Regions from separate parts of the Homo sapiens genome. Here region 2 is linked to region 1. Evidence: fine-mapped expression QTL. Tissue or cell type: nucleus accumbens. Region 1 holds a variant in brackets; the other region holds the start of a gene. All regions are shown on one strand. Distances are between the middles of the regions.

Region 1 (6,651 bases):
TCAACTTTAATTTTATAAACTGCAAAACTGGCGTACTAATCCCTGCTATTGGGGTTCAAAACATACCACTCCAAAATATGACTGTAGAATCCATCACCTCACAATGTGCCTCTTTGGTATATTGATTACTTTGAGCTGATTATTTTGAGAAAATGTGAACACAAAAGTAACTCTGAAAAACTCCCCTATAAATTTACTCCTATAAAGGAAATTTTCATTAGTAAAAGTATGCACACCAGGAAGACAGCTACTCCCAGACATCTTTCTCACTTACAGACTTTTATCTGCATGACGAGGCAGAACCTCTTCCCCGACATGTCCTCCCCTCACCCTTCCATGCCCTGCCTCCACCACCCCTGAAGCCCCAGCCCCTCTTCCTTTCTGGAGCTCAGGATGTCAATTAAGTTTCAGTCATCTGGCCCTTCTCACATTTTTGTCTCACATTTTTGTGGGACTGCTGTGCATACGTACGTAATTAGAATAGTTTTTATCCTGTTCATTTTTTTTTTTCTTGAGACAGAGTCTGGCTCTGTTGCCCAGGCTGGAGGGCAGTGGCAAAATCTCGGCTCACTGCAACCCCCATCTCCCAGGTTCAAGCAATTCTCTGCCTCAGCCTCTCGAGTAGCTGGGATTGCAGGTGCCCACCACCATGCCTGACTAATTTTTTTTGTATTTTTTAGTAGAGTCAGGGTTTCACCACATTGGCCAGGCTGGTCTCGAACTCCTGACCTCAAGTGGTCTGCCTGCCTCGGCCTCCCAAAGTGCTAGGATTACACACATGAGCCCCTGTGCCCAGACTGTTCATACTTTTTTTGTTAATCTAATTCATAGCCCAGTCAAAGAACCTAGAAGGGTGAAGGGAAGCCCTTTTTTCCTTCACTACACTGCCCTGTCATGAAGGTAATAATGTGTGAAAGGAAAATAAACCTTGGGACTCCAGAATCACTAAGCCAAAATCACTAAGGGAAAAGTCAAGCTGGGAGCTGCTCCGGCCAACCTGCCTCCCATTATATTCCTAAATAAGACAGCTACAAAGACAAAAAAGCTACATATCTCCCTCACAATTTTCCCGCAAGAAAATTCCCAGTGGATGAAAGACAGGGCTAAGTTGTGATTTTTTCTTATTTTGCCCAAATTCCTATCTAAGGAGTCTGGGGAGTCATGCCCTACAAACCACAAATTCTCATCAGATGGGTTTTATTTAACCCTATATATCGTGACTTACTTTCCAATGTGACTCTGGCATAACATTTTGTGACAAAGAAGAAGATAAAAATATTTTACCCCAAAATATGTTTCTTTGCCATATTTTGAAATGGCCCACTACACTGCCCTGTCATGAAGGTAATAATGTGTGAAAGGAAAATAAACCTTGGGACTCCAGAATCACTAAGCCAAAATCACTAAGGGAAAAGTCAAGCTGGGAGCTGCTCCGGCCAACCTGCCTCCCATTATATTCCTAAATAAGACAGCTACAAAGACAAAAAAGCTACATATCTCCCTCACAATTTTCCCGCAAGAAAATTCCCAGTGGATGAAAGACAGGGCTAAGTTGTGATTTTTTTCTTATTTTGCCCAAATTCCTATCTAAGGAGTCTGGGGAGTCATGCCCTACAAACCACAAATTCTCATCAGATGGGTTTTATTTAACCCTATATATCGTGACTTACTTTCCAATGTGACTCTGGCATAACATTTTGTGACAAAGAAGAAGATAAAAATATTTTACCCCAAAATATGTTTCTTTGCCATATTTTGAAATGGCCCTGCAAAGCCATCCTTTGTGGGGGAAAATTTGCATCTGTAAAAAATCTCTATCAACATAGCTAGATCTTTTTCTTCCAGGCCCCCCCACCCAGTCCTGAAGAGATTAACTGAGAGTCTAGTACCTTTTGGAGGTCTGAATAGGAAATATTTGTCATTTATTGTCTCTATGGGCAGCCACTATAAGACTTCAAAAGAATCTTGGTCTTTACAATCTTTTATCTTAACCTGAATATTCCATTTCTTTCTTTCTTTCTTTCTTTCTTTCTTTCTTTCTTTCTTTCTTTCTTTCTTTCTTTCTTTCTTTCTTTCTTTTCTCTTTCTTTCTTTCTTTCTTTCTTTCTTTCTTTCTTTCTTTCTTTCTTTCTTTCTTTCTTTCTTTCTTTTTTTTCCCAAGAGTGTCTCACTCTGTTGCCAGGCTGGAGTGCAATGGGGTGATCTCTGCTCACTGCAACCTCTGGCTCCCAGGTTCGAGGAATTCTCCTGCCTCAGCCTCCTGAGTAGCTGGGATTACAGGCAGCCACCACCACGTCAGGCTAATTTTTGTATTTTTGGTAGAGACAGGGGTTTCTCCATGTTGGCCAGGCTGATCTGGAACTCCTGACCTCAGGTGATCCACCCGCCTCCCAAAGTGCTGGGATTACAGGCGTAAGCCACCATGCCCGGCCCCGAACATTCCCTTTATATCCATCCCAGGTCTTCAGACAAACTCAACCGATTGCCAACCAGAAAATGCTTAAATTCACCTATAGCCTGGAAGCCCCTGCTTCAAACTGTCCTGCCTTTCTGAACCAAATCAATGTATTTCTCAAATGTATTTGATTAATGTCTCATGCCTCCCTAAAATATATAAAATCAAGCTGCACTCCGACCACCTTGGACACATGTTCCCAGGACCTCCTGAGGGCTGTGTCATGGGCCGTGGTCACTCATTTTTGGCTCAGAATAAATCTCTTCAGATATTTCACAGAGTTTGACTCTTTTCGTCAACAACAGACAGAACTCAAAGTCATCCCTCTGCTCATGTGAGACAAATGCAAATCTGATTGCTTCCTTTGCCCTATTGTTTCACTAAGCCAGATTAAGGCGTAAGCGACTATTCCTGTAAATGGCACATTCAATGAAGAGCTAATCAGAAACGCAAAAGGATGCAACTGTTTTTCTCTTTTCTACCTAAGACCTGGAAGCCCCCTCCCCACTTGGAGTTGTCCTACCTTTGCAGACCGAAGGAACCAGTGTTTATCTCTTGTCTCCCTAAAATGTATAAAACCAAGCTGTGCCTGGACCACCTCGGGCACATGTTGGGACCTTCTGAGGCTGCATCACAGGTGCATCCTTAACCTTGACAACATAAACTTTCTAAATCGATTGAGACCTGTCTCACATACCTTTTGGTTTACAACTGTGAAATATATGTGTATCTGAAATATATATGTAAATATATGTGAACGTTCTCTTAAGCTGTCAGGTGAGAGGCGCTGGTGTATCATTTAATTACCCACCACCATGGTTCTAACAGAGCTGGCCAAACAAGAGAGGGATGTGATCTGACTCTTCAAGTGAGCCCACACAAGCACAGCAGACAGATCCTAGCACCCAGTCTTCCTATTTGAGAATACTGTGGTGCCAGCCAAGGCAAGGAATTACCCGATTTTATTACATCCCATACTCTTAAATATGTATTAGATACCTACAGCCTTGCTTGTGCCGATACCATGGAAGGATGCAGCAAAGATTGCAGACTTGCCTGGTGACTGATGGCGACATTAAAACAGGCAAAAATGCCCCTCTCTGATCTTCCTCACTCTCCGAAGGCATAGGAGTTGACTTTCGGATAGCAAATGCAGCAATCCCTGGAGGGTTTTCAGCCAGC[C/T]GCCTGTGTGGAATTTAAAGTATTATGCATGATTAATTACCAAAAAATTCAGGCAGGCACTCTCTGTCAGGAAAGTGTTTAAAACCTTCCTGGTGGCAGATTGTGCTGCTAGCAAGAAAAATAGATGCTTCAATACCACTCAGTTTCCAAATGCATTTCCTTTCAGAAATGCTTGTGTTAGCCTGCAAATATGTGCTGTCCTACTCTGGCAATTTTAGATGCGCAGCCCCGAAGCAAAGGCTCCTTCCTGTCCTGCCAGAGAAGGGGGCGCGATTGGATGCCATGCAGAGGTGCATGACACGCATCACAGGTACGTGGCTGCCTGTCTCCTGGGCACCCTTTCCATTTTTCCTTTGCAGAATTTGTCTATGCAGCATATTAAAAATCTACCTCTACCTTGATACACTGAAGTTCTCGCAGTGAAAATGTTTATTAAGAAACATATCTGTGCCAGCCGTGGAGGCTCACGCCTGTAATCCCAGCACTTTGGGAGGTGGAGACGGGTGGATCACCTGAGGTCAGGAGCTTGAGACCAGCCTGGCCAACATGGTGAAACCCCATCTCTACTAAAAATACAAAAAAAAAAATTAGCCAGGTGTGGTGGCGGGTGCCTGTAATCCCTGCTACTCAGGAGGCTGAGGCAGGAGAATCACTTGAACCCTGGAGACGGAGGTTGCAGTGAGCCGAGATTGCGCTATTGCACTCCAGCCTGGGCAACAAGAGGGAAACTCTGTCTCAAAAAAAAAAAAAAGAAAGAAAGAAAGAAAAAAAAGAAACAGATTTTTGCCAGGCATGGTGGCTCATGCCTACAGCACCAGCCAGTTGGGAGGCTGAGGTGGGAGGACAGTTTGAGCCCAGGGGTTCCAGCCTGCAGCGCACTATGAACTCTCCTGATGAAAAGCCACTTATTCCAGCCTGGGTTACCTCACCCCCCAAAAAAAATGTTTTGGAAAAAGCTTTAGTTCCAGAAATGTGATCATCTTGATATAATTTTAGAGGGAATTGTTTTTCATAGCCACCACAGTGGAGGGAAAAGTGCTTTCTTCTATCCTTCTAGGTACTTTCGTTGGTCTACAAAATAAGTTGACATAAGACACATTAACCGGAGAAAAACACTTTTAATTATGTACGTACTCACAGGGAGTGTGACAAACATAGGAGACTCAACAAAGCAGCTAGATGACTGAGACTTATACGCTCTCCCTATCCTGAGCTACAGAAAGGAGCAGGGGCTTGGGCTTTGGGGGAGAGTGGAGACATGTTATGAGAGTAAAACCATCTTTGCAAAATTATAACTGAGGAAATTATGACAGTGAAAGAAATCAGACCTAACCAACTCCATCTTGCTTCTAACCCTTAAGCTGTCCTTGTTCGTTCCTGGGCATAGGCAGAACTAACTTTGGGAAGGAATTCAGCTCATGGTTTGACCCTAAAACAAAATTGATAACAACCCTTTCCTGAAAAGAACCCCTTCTTGCCTGGGACCAGTCTGCCTTTGCAGGACTAACAAATTAGCTACAAGATTAGAAATTACAATTTAGGGGTCATGCAGCCTCTGGTTCCAAGAGTCTGAACCTCCCCAGATTGCTCCTGGGGATAACATCACTATTGTAAAACCTAAGATCAGCACTTGAGATATCTCGCAGACCCTGCACTCAATGGATCAGCTGACACTAGCTAAACTGGTAATCCGGCCCAACCAGTTCTGCCATGGCACCCAGGAATAGAAGACATTAAAAAAACCTAACTTCAACCCCCTGTGATTCCATCTCCAACCTAATCAATCCCCACCTCCCAAGCCCCTATGTGCCAAATTATCTTTAAAAACTCTGATCCCCGAATGCTTGGGGAGACTGATTTGAGTAACTATGAAATTCTGGTCTCCTACACAGCCGGCTCTGTGTGAATCACTCTTTCTCCATTGTCGTTCCCCTGTCTCGATAAATCGGTTCTATCTAGGCAGCAGGCAAGGTGAGCCCATTGGGTGGTTACAAGAGGGTAACAAGAGGGGAGGAAATGTATGGTGAATAAGCATTGCCTGGTTACCCAGATAAAAGTCTCTCTGTCAGAGGTGTTTCAACCAGAGCAACTCCATATTGAATAGGTGCTAAGTAAGATAAGGCTGGACCTGCTGGGCTGCATTCCCAGGAGGTTAGGCATTCTTAGTCACAGAATGAAATAGAAGGTCAGCACAAGATACAGGTCATAAAGATCTTGCTGATGAAACAGGTTGCAGTGGGCCGGGCTCAGTGGCTCACGCCTGTAATCCCAGCACTTTGGGAGGCTGAGGTGGGAGGATCATGAGGTCAGGAGATCAAGACCATCCTAGCTAACCCGGTGAAACCCCTTCTCTACTAAAAAAAATACAAAAAATTATCTGGGCGTGGTGGCAGGCACCTGCAGTCCCAGCTGCTCGGGAGGCTGAGGCAGGAGAATGGCGTGAACCCAGGATGCCAAGCTTGCGGTGAGCGGAGATCGTGCCACTGCACTCCACCCTGGGCAACAGAGTGAGACTCTGTCTCAAAATAAATAAATAAATAAATAAATAAATACAAGTTGCAGTAAAGAAGCTGGATAAATCCCACCAAAACCAAGACAGCCATGAGCATGAACTCTGGTCGTCCTCACTGCTACACTCCCACCAGCGCCATGACAGTTTACAAATGCCATGGCCACGTCAGGAAGTTACCCTACATGGTCTAAAAAGGGGAGGCATGAATAATCCACCCCTTGCTCAGCATATCATCAAGAAATAACCACAAAAATGGGCAACCAGCAGTACTCGGCGCTGCTCTGCCTATGGAGTAGCCATTCTTTTATTCCTTTACTTTCTTAATAAACTTACTTTCACTTTACTCTGTAAACTCGCCCTGAATTCTTTCTTGCATGACATCCAAGAACCCTCTCTTGGAGTCTGAATTGGGACTCTTCCCCATAACATCTCTGTTGTAAAATTATCTCTGTTCCTAGTACAGCCATCTTTACTAATGAAATGTTTTTGTAGGTATAAATTT
Region 2 (6,651 bases), 130 kb after region 1:
TCACTGCACTCCAGCCTGGGTCATAGAGTGAGACCCTGTCTCAAAAAAAAAAAAATGTGTGTGAACAATCTCCTCCTTAAGTATCCATTTTTTCTACTGCAACTCCTGTTTTCATTCCTCTTCCTCCACAGAATTTTATTATAACAATTTCTTATGCTTAAAACTCTTCTGTTCATCACACTATCAGGTTTCTTGCTACAAAAGCTATGTATAAAAACTTACAATTTTAATTTTCTTCAACATGTCTCTAAATGTTAAATAACTTTTTCCAGTTATTGTAAATGATGTATTCCAGTTATCATGGTTATTAACACTCAATTCATGAAGGTAAAATGACTACATTATAACTTGATAATTATTAATAGTGAAAATATACACTTATCAGAAACACATCTTATAACGAGATAAATGGTACTAAAACTGTTTTCAAATTACTTTATGTATCCATGGATGAATATTACTTATCGGTGGCATGACACATGATTCGGTATCAGTTGGATTCCTATTTTTTATATATGTAAGCATGGCGAAAAACGTTTTTACATGAGTAAATACATCTGAATGGAAAGTGTTTTGTTGTAAAGATTCCACTCCTTCTAAGTTATGTGCTGAAAATTACATGAAGATTGATCATAAAAAAATTTTTTTGAGATAGTCTTGCTTTGTCACCCAGGCTAGAGTGTAGTGGTACAATCATGGCTCACTGCAGCCTCAAACTCCTAAACTCAAGGGGTCCTCCCACCTCAGCCTCCTGAGTAGCCAGGATCACAGATGTGTGCCACCACGCCCGTTAATTTTTATTTTTAGTAGACGCGGGGTCTCACTATGTTGCCCAGGTTGGTCTTGAAATCCTGGGCTCAACCAGTCCTCCCACCTCAACCTCTCAAAGTGCTGGGATTACAGGCATGAGCCACTGCACCCGGCCTAAAAATTACTTTTAATGATCTAATCCATCAGTTTATAAATTGACTAGATCCTCTTTCAGTTCATGGAAAGCAAAGAACTAGAACAATCTGACTTGCCAGAAGATTAGTAACACAGCCATTAGTCACTCACTTTCTCACACTTTCCCAACACTGCAAATATCCTCTGGTGGGTGGGCTGTGGCCATGGCCAGGGAGGCCTTCCTCCTCTGGGCTGATGCAACATTGCCCTGGGTGGAAAGATCTGCTTGGGGAGGGAGCTGGGTGCTGTGGAGGAAGGCGGGGAAGAACTGCATCTCCATCAGGGCCTGCCCATGAAGATGGTGTTAGGTTCTGGAACACAGCTTGCTTAACACTGCCTGTGCCCTTGCAAACTTTGTGTCTTGCTGGGGCTTGTAGATCCCAGTTTGCAAATGGTGGCATTGTGTAAATCCCAACTCCCTCAGGCAAGGGCAAAAACACATCACCTCAAACTGTGTTTTGTGCTTTTTTTTTGGCAGGGGGACTAACGTTTTATAATTTATTTATTCATATATTTAGCAAACTGTTATGGAGGCTCCTGTACCACCTGACCCACCCTTCAGCTGAGAGCCCCACTCATGCTGGGTACCCAGGAAACTGCAGGCCTGGCCTGGAAGCTCAGCAGCTGAGTGGCACATTGCAGGGGATGAAAAGCCAGGAGGATAAGGCGGCCTGGGGGGACCCTGAGGGCAAGAACTATGAGATGTCCTCCAGGCGAGAGAGGAAGAAAGCCACTGCGGGGAGGATCGGCCTGGAACCCAGACTGACAGCTCTTCCTTTCCAAACACAGCCCCCAAGAGATGGAGAACCCAGATGGCCCCATTTCCAGACAAACAAATGCCACTGTTTTTGTTCTTTCACAAATCTGGTTCCCTTGACAATTAAAACCAAGTCATAGCTGGGTACAGTGGTGTGTGCCTCTAGTTCTAGCTACCCGGGATGCTGAGGTGGGAGGATCACTTGAGGCCAGAAGTTCAAGACCAGCCTGGGCAACATACTGAGACCCCCATGTCTATAAGAAAGAATAAAATTAGGTTATAGATCATATTTTAATAAACTTGTTTTCAGCACAATGTCTAATTTTAAAAATAAAAATGTGCTCTTAGTAGTCAGACTTGGACTATTGCTGTTGTTTAAAAAAATACACACACCTTTTTCTCAAAAAGAGATGATTCTGAAAGTTTTCCAGCAGGAAACATCTCTAATGTAACTGGAGTTAATGAATGATGACTTAGGTAAAAGACACTTTCTATCCATGCTGCCATGCCAGCCTCCTGGTCCGCCAGGGAGAGCTGTGGCCTGCAGCCCAGGGGTCATGAGGGTGAGCTGGCCCAGGAGGACCACGTGGAATGCTTCACAAGATTGCCTCAGATGGAAGGGCATGGTATAGAAGGCAAATCAGAGGAGGAGTGACATTTTCTGTGGTTATAAGGAAGACAGGTGAGGCCGAGAGCTTGAAGAAGGGCTTGCAGCTGTCCTGACATTAAAAGGCTTGTTCATTATGGGGGTCATGAAGCTGTTTCTCATCTTGCTTGGGCTCTTTGTGGAGGACAGATGTGACACCCTCACATCCTTGAGGCTGGCGTCTCAGATTTTTTGGTGGCGAGTCCCTGAGGCCCACTCGAGTGAGCCAAAGGCAGGAGCCCATGGGATACTTGGCCAGGACCCACATCCCTGGAACCTGGGCTGTGTGGGGCCCTAGACTAAGATCTCTCCTCGACCAACTGCCAGCCAGGCTCCTCTGAGTCCTCTTCTCAACAATACCTCCACGCTGGCCTATAAAGACTTCAGCTAACACTAACATGGCATCTAGCAACTCATGGCCACATCCCTAGGATGACACCAGCCCCCCTTATAGTCCCTACCTCAGGAAACTCAAGACCGCCAAAAAATACCCTGTTCCAGCCAATCCCTGCAGCTACGGCCCCTGTCTCCCGGCCTCTGTGGGACATCAGGAGCTAACTTCGACCAGAGCCAGTTAGCAGCCCAGTGGGGCCGGCCCCTCCTTCCTGGGCTTTGCAATTTCTCACTTCCTGACTCCAGCAAGCCTTCCCTCACCCCTCCCTCCTCCCTTGGAAAAATCCACTCACCTCTGTACACATCCAAGCTGACTTCAGTTCACACTGTAACCTCTTCCCCACTGCAACGGTTATTACTGTGAAAAATCTCTCCTGACCCTCTCACTACTGCCTGGCTTTGTTTGTCTTTGACACTCTGGGTTCAGGTAGGACAGGGTGTGCCCGGCCACAGCCCCCTCAGTAACTCCAGGCTGGCCCACTTCCTGCCGTGTGTGAGGTTTTGGAGTGGCAAGTTTGTTCTGCTTTGTTTCATGGTTTTCAGTCCCTCCCAATATCCCCTGGCCTGTGGTCACCACAGTCAGCCCAGGCCAGCAACTGACCCAGGCTGGAGGTTAACACCACGGAGCTGCCCACACGTGTGTGCCCGAGTCCCTGCCCATGCCTCAGCAATGGTCACAGGCTTCTCACCTCCATTCAGCCCCCCTATTTGGGGCCCTACCTTTAGCCAGCTAGCCAAGTGCTCATTGTAACCCAGTATTTGTATTCATTCACCATAGAAAATTTGTCAAATGGGTAATGCATTTCTTTTTACCCGCCTCTTAGTGACTGGGCTTATGATCAGAATCAAGTGCTATTTTGTGGCCACTGGCCCCTCATTGGCCCCTTCCTCAAACCCATGCTGGATCTGGAGTGAAATGCCCTCAGGTTGACCCCTGCTCGGAGCCCAGGCCAGGTGAGACCGGCTGGTGGGTGCACTTGGAGATCACACCCCAGCTGCTCAAGGGACACTTTGAGCTAGAGCAACATGCATCAGTGTGCACAGAGCCCTTCCTGTGCACCCGCACTGCAACTAGAGCTTTCTAAGAATTGTCTCACTCCATCCCCAAGAATTGTGTGGCTGGGGGGATATGCTCACCCACATTTTGCAGATGGCAGAGAGTCTTGCAGAGCTGCCAGCGTTCCTGAGGCTCACACAGCCAGCCATGTTGGGGCGGATGCTCCGGCCTCTCGTCTGGCTCCAGAGCGAGGCAGCGCCTTGCAGCACATTCCCAACAATTTCCTCATTGGGAGGCTTCCTAGGAAACCAGCCTCCCTGCATATGTGGACACTGCGATGCATCAGCCCTATGCCTGCTTCCTCCCAAGCTGAAGGCACCCACTCATGAACCGCCCTTGATATGCCAGGGCATCTTACGCTGCACTGGGTTCCTATTTATGTGTAACCACATTTCACTACCTAAACAATGCCTGTTTATTATCTCATGGTTCTGGTAGATCAGGACTGTAGACAGCCTTGAGCCGAGTCCTCTGCTGAGAGTCTCCCAGGCTGAAATCCAGGCATCAGCACAGGCTGCAGGCTCATCTGAGGCTGGGGATCCTCTTCCAGCTCACTGGTGCTTGGCAGGATCCAGCTGGGCTGTAACACTGAGGTCTGTATATTCTTGCTGGCTGTCAGCCAGGGGTCACTCCAAGCTCCTAGAGGCCACTCTCACATTTGGAGAGTGTCAATCAAAATATGACTGGGCAGCGGCTCACACCTGTTCTCCCGGTACTCATAGAGGCAGAGGCAGGAGGATCGCTTGAGCCAGGAATTCCGGACTTGCTTGGGTGGCATAGGGAGACTGTCTCTACAAAAGGAAAAAAAAAAAAAAAAGAGCAAAATATGGCAGCTGACTTCCTCAAGGCCAGAAGGAGGATGTCTATTGCTGCCTCTTGTCTCCTTTAAGGGATCACCCGATTAGGTCAAGCCCACTCAGGATAATCTCCTTTTTATTGACTCAAAGTGAACTGATCAGGGACCTTCACTACATTTGCAAAGTCCCTTTTTGCCTGTTCACACTGAAACCCTGTTGTCTTCACAGGAGTATCCCACACTCAAGGGGAGATGCTATTCAGAGTATGTACATGAGGGTGGGGACTTTGGGAACCATGTTACAACTCAGCCTACCGCACTCCCCATTATCAAATTCTCCCAGTCCCTCTTCCTGAGGCCAAACCTAATGCTGGAATTCCTCACCCCTCCCTGGACCTCAGAATAGTGAACTTCACTCTCACTTAAAAACAAGGACAACTAAATGACAGACCTGGTATTGTAGAAACTCAGGAGACTGTATTGCCTTCATGCACCAACTGGTGACAGGAATACGTGGATCTGTGAGTCAAAAGGGTACACTCCACTTAGACTCATGGAGGACGGGCACCTTCTCCCCACCCAGGCCCAGCTCCACATCGTTCTCACACTGTCACTGTCAGACTGACCTCTGCCCATTCAAAGCATTGCACATAAGCTTGGGCATAGCTTGCTTGCTTGTGAGGACTGAAGTTTGTCCAGACAGATGAGGCTTTGCTCAACACCTTGGCTCCAACCATGTCACATGGATCCTCCTCCACATTCAGCATTGCAGATTGGCTGAATTCCAAATGCCTCACAACTAGGGCAAAGGAAAGGCAGGCCTTCTGAGACAGAAGGGAGACAGTGAGTTATCACAGGGCAGCTCACGTAATAGGTATGAGCCATCCATGAGAGTGGTTGCCCACTCCTAGAGAACAGAGGGAAACGGTGAACAAGACCGGACTCCCAACTTGCACTATTCAACAAGAACCCACGAGAACTGTGCCGCGCTTAATTGAGTATTCCTGCCTCCCCGGCAGCCATCAGCTAGCATGCAACTTTAATCTGTCCTATTAACTGATGTCTGCATGTGGTGAAGGAAGAAATTCACATGGTTCAGAAGGGCCATCAGTGAAATCACAGGCCTTCTCACTCCACTGAGGTAACCACTGTCCGTAGCTTCTGGCTCCAGTTCTTCTGTGAGTTTCCATTTATGTCTTTTTCAAGTAAGTCCTGAGAGATTTCCCCAGCTTTAGCTTCCAGATTTGCAACTTGGTGTTCAGCCATTTCCAATTTATTATCCTGCTCTAACCTTTGGCTCATGTTTCATTTATCATGTTTCAAAATTCCAAGAACACATTATATTTCTCTAAAACTCCTTTTACACAGCAGTCCATTGTCATTTTAAGGCTGTATCTTCCTGTAGTGTGTGTGTGTGCGTGTGGTGTGTGCGTGTGTGTGTGTGTATACACAGTCACTTGTCACTTAACAACAGGGATACACTCTGAGAAATGCTCATTAAGTGATTCTGTCATCCTGCAAACTTCATAGATAAACCTGGATGGCATAGCATCCAACACCCCTAGGCTGTATGGGACGGCCTATTGCTCCTAGGCTACAAACCTATACAGCATGTTACTGTACTGAATACTGTAGGCAGTTATAACACAATGGTAAGTATTTGTCTATCCAAACATATCTAAACATAGAAAAGATACAGTAAAAATGTAGTGTAAAAGATGAAGAATGGGACACCCGGATAAGACAATTACCATGAATGGGGCTTGCAGGACAGGGAGTTACTCTGGATGAGTCAGTGAGTGAGTGGTGAGTGAATGTGAAGACCAGGACATTACTGTAGAATACTATAGACTTTAGAAACACTGTACACTTAGGCTGCATTAAATTTATAAAAAATATTTTTTTCTTCAGTAACAAACTAACCTTAGCTTTCTGTAACATTTTTACTTTACAAACTTTTAAATTTTTAAAAACTTTGGACTCTTGTAATAACACCTTAAAACACAAACACAAAATATGTTGTTTCTTTATATTCTAATACTCTAAGCTTTTTTTTC

Direction of the effects. Positions count from the first base shown, and alleles are read on the strand shown. Sizes are in standard deviations (SD) of each study's normalised expression.
In carriers of allele C in region 1, the expression in nucleus accumbens of the gene that starts at base 4,085 in region 2 tends to be higher than with T alone (moderate effect, 0.52 SD a copy in GTEx).

Evidence for each region. PIP is the estimated chance that this variant, and not a neighbour inherited with it, causes the effect.
Region 2: it holds the start of LINC02346, and the variant in region 1 is fine-mapped to the expression of LINC02346 in nucleus accumbens (GTEx, PIP 0.99).

Annotation. Positions count from the first base shown.
Region 1 is chr15:26,025,530-26,032,180 of GRCh38, reverse strand. All of the region lies in intron 2 of LINC02346 (long intergenic non-protein coding RNA 2346), which reads right to left. Among named protein-coding and RNA genes, the nearest start is that of TRE-TTC2-2, 53 kb to the left of the region's middle. The variant C/T (reference allele first, on the strand shown) is at 3,638.
Region 2 is chr15:25,899,794-25,906,444 of GRCh38, reverse strand. LINC02346 (long intergenic non-protein coding RNA 2346) reads right to left here and starts at 4,085. Exons shown (of 5, transcript NR_040082.1): 1 at 3,879-4,085.